2 separate regions of the Homo sapiens genome follow, and region 2 is linked to region 1. A link means that fine-mapping ties the variant in region 1 to the expression of a gene that starts in the linked region. Tissue or cell type: whole blood. Region 1 holds a variant in brackets; the other region holds the start of a gene. All regions are shown on one strand. Distances are between the middles of the regions.

What was found. PIP is the estimated chance that this variant, and not a neighbour inherited with it, causes the effect.
Region 2: it holds the start of GDE1, and the variant in region 1 is fine-mapped to the expression of GDE1 in whole blood (INTERVAL, PIP 0.99).

Annotation. Positions count from the first base shown.
Region 1 is chr16:19,497,189-19,499,949 of GRCh38, reverse strand. TMC5 (transmembrane channel like 5) reads right to left here. Exons shown (of 22, transcript NM_001261841.2): 22 at 837-2,030. The coding sequence ends at 1,984. It also overlaps the pseudogene RNU4-46P. Among named protein-coding and RNA genes, the nearest start is that of TMC5-AS1, 11 kb to the right of the region's middle. The variant G/A (reference allele first, on the strand shown) is at 1,140.
Region 2 is chr16:19,520,790-19,523,550 of GRCh38, reverse strand. It overlaps GDE1 (glycerophosphodiester phosphodiesterase 1), which reads left to right and starts at 1,453. Exons shown (of 6, transcript NM_016641.4): 1 at 1,453-1,847. The coding sequence starts at 1,587. RefSeq lists a silencer at 1,492-1,661 and enhancers at 1,772-1,941, 1,252-1,986, 2,112-2,171.

The sequences.
Region 1 (2,761 bases):
GAGATTGTACCACTGCACTCCAGCCTGGGAGACAGAGGGAGGCTCCAACTCCATCTCAAAAAAAAGCAAAGAAAAAAGCACAAACAGCACTAAGATGACCCCAAGGGGAATAAAATCACTTCCAACATCACTTCCATGGGTTGCCTGCACTGACCCCACAGACAAGTCTCCCTTAGTCCCTGTGCTTCTTCAGAGCATCTACTACAACTGTAATTAATTATTGCTTAAGAATTAAATTCATGTCTAAACCTGCTAGACAGGCAGCACCATGAATTGTTCACCATCTTGCTCACCACTATTTGGTCCATATTTGTTGAATGAATGGATGGATGAACACTACATACAACTGTTACCAAAGATGACACCAAAAGAAATTAATTCCTCCGATGAAGTGAATTAATGAAAAAAATAAGTGAATGAAAAAGTGCGTGGTCAAGTGCAGTGGCGTGTGCCTGTAGTCCCAGCTACTTGGCAGGCTGAAGTGGGAGGACTGCTTGACCTAGGAGTTTGAGTCAAAGCTGGCAACACAGCCCAGCCTTATCTCTTAAAAATAAAAAAAAAAGGGAATAAATGACAGCACTGGTTGGGTGCTTGTGTTTCGAATGTATCTTAACTGCTTTCTAAATTCAGTTCCAATTAGGTTTTATGCGAGTGATTACTTAAGAGGAGGCTCCTCTCTCCTGAGTAACTGCACCTTTCTGCTGGACCTTTCAGTGTTAAGAACAGCCACGTGGCTTGTGAATCATTTGGCAAACCTGCAAAAACATTATACACACACGTATTCATTACATATGTGCACACACACACACATTCCACACATCACCACCAGTTTCATATTTGGTTTGAATAAGACTTTTAATTTACTTTATTTATTTATTTATTTATTTTTTTGAGGCAGAGTCTCACTGTTGCCCAGGCTGGAATGCAGTGGTACAATCTCGCCTCACTGCAACCTCTGCCTCCCAGGTTCAAGCAATTCTCCTGCCTCAGCCTCCCGAGTAGCTGGGATTATAGGCATGTACCACCACGCCCAGCTAGTTTTTTTATTTTTAGTAGAGACGGGGTTTCACCATGTTGGCCAGGCTGGTCTTGAACTCCTGACATTAAGTGATCCGCTTGCCTCAGCCTCCCAAAGTGCC[G/A]GGATTACAGGCATAAGCCATCGCACCCAGCTAATTTCTTTTCTTTTCTTTTTTCTTATTCAGTCTCCGTAGAGACTGTCAAAAATTGCCAGCGCTGATTATATTTCAAGTCATCACGGTGGGGTATTGGGAAAATTTCCAATTAGCAATAATCGCGTCTCGGATAAATCTCATTGGCTACGGTACTGCCACTGCAAAGCTAGCTTGACGTAGGACTTTGATGGTCATGTATAACACCTCACAGGGGCAGAACCTCCTCCATCCCCGACTCCAAAGACTCATGTAATCAGTACGCAAGAAAGTTCAGAGATGAGACCTCTGGTTGTATTCCACCTTTGGGACATGGGGGATGTCTTTAGTTCAAAGTCACAAATAAATGCAGGTTCTACAATTCAGAGGCTTCATATCCCTGCTGGAGTATTACATGTTTATTCAGGATGGACCACTTTTCTTAGCAACAGTTTCTAAACCTTTGCCAGGTCTGGGAAGTCTGGCAGGAGAGATTTCTAAGAACCAATCATTCCTGCACACACTTCTTGAAGATAATATACATTATTCCCTAGTTATCTCTTCCTAGGTTTTTGTAGGCTCATTTCAATATTACAACAATCTTTATTGGAAAACCCCAAGTATTTTGTCTTGAAAAATCAGCAATCCAGGTATTAAAAATAGCATGGAATGCCCAATTTTACTTTGATAATTACATGGTAGTCAGTTTCCGCTCCTGGCTAAAGCCTTGGATTTTCTTCTGGGCAGTTCCTAAAGGCACAGGTGGCATGGAAGAAATCATTCCATTTTCGTCTCCTCCCCTTATTTGATTGGTGTCTGGTTACCAAAAGAGTCATCAGGCCCTTGGATTACCTTCTTGAACTGATCTTCTAGATCGCAAGTCTAGGTTTGACACAGGAAAGAGAAGTTAACGCAGGCACACTCTGCCCCATCTCTACAAGGGAAAGACCAGCTTGCCTTCAAGATTCCATAGCTTCTCATGCCTTCTTTGCCTCTTCCTTTTAGTTTCTATAATCCTTCCCTTGAACTCCCATCACTGGAAGTCATCAGTAAATGCTATCCCCCAAAAATAAATGGGTTTGCTTGTTTGTTTCCTGCCCAGAATTCGCTCTCCTGGCATCAGCCCCAGATTTTCTTTAGGAAGTCACCCTTCCCTACTCTTGGTCCCTATGGTCTTCATGGTTGCACCACCTGCATCTACAGATGAAATCATGTGATCAAGGGAACTGCCACATTTTTGCACCCACAACAATTGGTTCATAGACGGGGACATCACCCAGTCAGATCCTATGAAACACCGTGAGAATCCTGGGTCCCTCAGTCTTTCCCACCAGACTGACTCTGAGAAGATATAAGAAGTTGATAAAGCTGTCTTGCACTTATTAGGCAGAGTCTATTGCAAAAGGAACTAACATGGGTAAGAACGGAACTGAAAGAAACCGGGTTCTGGTGACACTGTGAGTTCCTGCGTTAGGCAAGGCCTAAAGCAAGAATTATTCTTGGAATTTTGTTTAAGCCAGTTTGGATCCAATTTGCAACTGAAAAAGTAATGGACACATGAGCAATTCTTACACTTGTCTTAGGATATTTCACCAGAAATAAATTAGTGTCTT
Region 2 (2,761 bases), 24 kb before region 1:
ACTTGCTGAACCCACCGGGCGTGATGGCTTACGCCTATAATTCCAACATTTTGGAAGCCGAGGCGGAAGGATCGCTTGAGCCCAGGAGTTCGAGATCAGCCTGGGCAACAAAGGGAGACGGCATCTCTACAAAAATTTTAAACGTTAGCCGGGTGGGGTGGCGCGAGCCTGTGATCCCAGCTACTCGGGAGGCTGAGGTCGGAAGATCGCTTGAGCCCAGGAGGTCGACGTTGCAGTGAGCCATGATTGCACCACTGCATTCCAACCTGGGCGATAGAGTGAGACTGTCTGAAAGAAAAAAAAAAAAAGGCTGAATCCTAGATGCCAACTGGAAGGCTTAAGACATCTATCCCCTTTTGCAAATCAGTGGGAAAATGCACTAAAGGAAAAAAAGGTAACAGAAAAATCCCTGAATATTTTTGCAAAGTTCTCTACATAAAAATGTTACCAGCCCTCCAAAATATGTCCAGGGGCCCCTTTTCACTCCCTAACTCGGCTTCATGGTCTATCTCTCTTACCCTCCTTCCAGTGCCTGTTTTTGCATATGTAAAATGGGGGTTTTAAAAGTGCCTATCACAAGGGTGGTTGTGAGGCACAGTTGAGGTAACTCCTGTACAGTGCCTGGTACAAAAGCCCTTAGCAGAAGTAAGATTAGGGGGAGGAGGAGTGAAAATGTCACAAATCACTGGGGAGGCCTTTATGTCAGTCCCCACCCTGCCATTAACTGCTTAATTCACCTATCCTCAGTTTCCGCATCTATGAAATAAGGGAATCCTTAAAACCCCTTCCAGTTTTATAATCCGATTGTGCCTTCTTTGCTAGGCTCTTCCAGTCCCCCAGAATCTGGAAAATAAAGTCGATTGAAATCAGTCTCCTGATAGTAACTGTTAGGCTGTATTGAGAATGAGATAAGCATATAAAGTGTTTGCTCGTCAAGTACCTGGGACATGGTAAGTGCTCTGTAAACGTTAGGTGTACTTGCTAACTTTTATTTCCTCCCACAAGAATGTGAATCCCATAAGAGCAAAAACCCTGTAGGTCCTGTTCAACTGTGTCCGGAGCACCTGGACCGGTATTTGGCACATCTTGAATTGAACTGAACTGAACTGAATTGAATTGAATTGAATTGATAGTCTAAGCATCCTGCCTCTCCAGGTTCCCTGGAATTCAGTTTCCTCAAGGGCAGATAAAGGAGTCACTAAAATCCCTTCCAGTCCTACAGCTTTAGGATGGTTCTTATCCCTCCTTTTCTCGCCTAGGAGTCTGAACGCCCAGGTTGAAGTTCAGACCTCGGAAAACCCTAACCCACCTTAGATTTGGAACGTGAGCCTGGGGCCTGGGGCCTGGGCCCTCCCCCGTTGCCATGGAGCGGCTCCGCCCACTGGCGCTGCGAATCCCGATCCCTGATTGGCTGGGCGGCCGACTCCCTCTCTGGATGTGTCTGCTGCCGCCATTGTGCGGCGCTGGTCCCCTCAGAGGGTTCCTGCTGCTGCCGGTGCCTTGGACCCTCCCCCTCGCTTCTCGTTCTACTGCCCCAGGAGCCCGGCGGGTCCGGGACTCCCGTCCGTGCCGGTGCGGGCGCCGGCATGTGGCTGTGGGAGGACCAGGGCGGCCTCCTGGGCCCTTTCTCCTTCCTGCTGCTAGTGCTGCTGCTGGTGACGCGGAGCCCGGTCAATGCCTGCCTCCTCACCGGCAGCCTCTTCGTTCTACTGCGCGTCTTCAGCTTTGAGCCGGTGCCCTCTTGCAGGGCCCTGCAGGTGCTCAAGCCCCGGGACCGCATTTCTGCCATCGCCCACCGTGGCGGCAGCCACGACGCGCCCGAGAACACGCTGGCGGCCATTCGGCAGGTGAGACCCCCACGTTCGCGCCCCTCGGTCCTCCCGAGAGCTCGGACTTCTACTTTTCCTTCCCAGGGTTCCCCGATCTTCTCAGGACGGCCTTCCCACTTCCTCATTCGTCCACAAGGCACACTCCCGGCCCTTGATCGCTCCCAGTGTCTAGGGATCTCCGGACTTGAGGTTTTATATTTACAGAAGACAGCAGATATGTATATAGTTTCTGTGCGCCTGACGCTAAGGTTACATACAGCCAGGAACAAGGTCAAAAGTGTCCCTGGTTTACAGAGTGTACATCGGAATGGGGGAGGCAAGCCTTAAACAAGTAAACACATAAATGAGATAACTTTAAGAGAGTGAAAGGTGCAATGAAGAAATCGGGGGAACTCGAAGGAAAGAGTTACGCTATTTTATTTAGATGGAATAGTCAAGAGAAATCGTCTCCGAAGAAGCAACATTTGAACAGAAACCGGAATTATAAGGAGCCAGGCAGGTGCAGAAGGTCCTGAGATGGGAATAATATAGGGGTGTTCAGGTAACAGAAGAGGCAGTGTGTGGCCTGACTTCAAGGAAGAGAACAAAGACTGGTGTGTGAATGAAGTAGAAAATGGGTCAGGTCAAATAGGTTCTTGGTCAGTAATTGAGGTTAGTCTAAATAGATCACCCTTCACAAGACATACGTTTGCTTGTCTTGTAAATCACTTGAGTCATTTCCTTATCACCTTTTCCCCAGACACACACATTCGCACTCGCACAACCCTGGCAGCTGGACTCACATCAGTTTCTGCCCCCTCCTTTTCACAAGGCACTCCTGAAACTTTTGATACCTCCCAGCTCTTGGCATTCTCCTAGCTTCATAATAATGACAGCTTACAGAGAGGGCTTTTCAGTGGATTAGGCACTTTTGCATCTGTGTAAATATATCT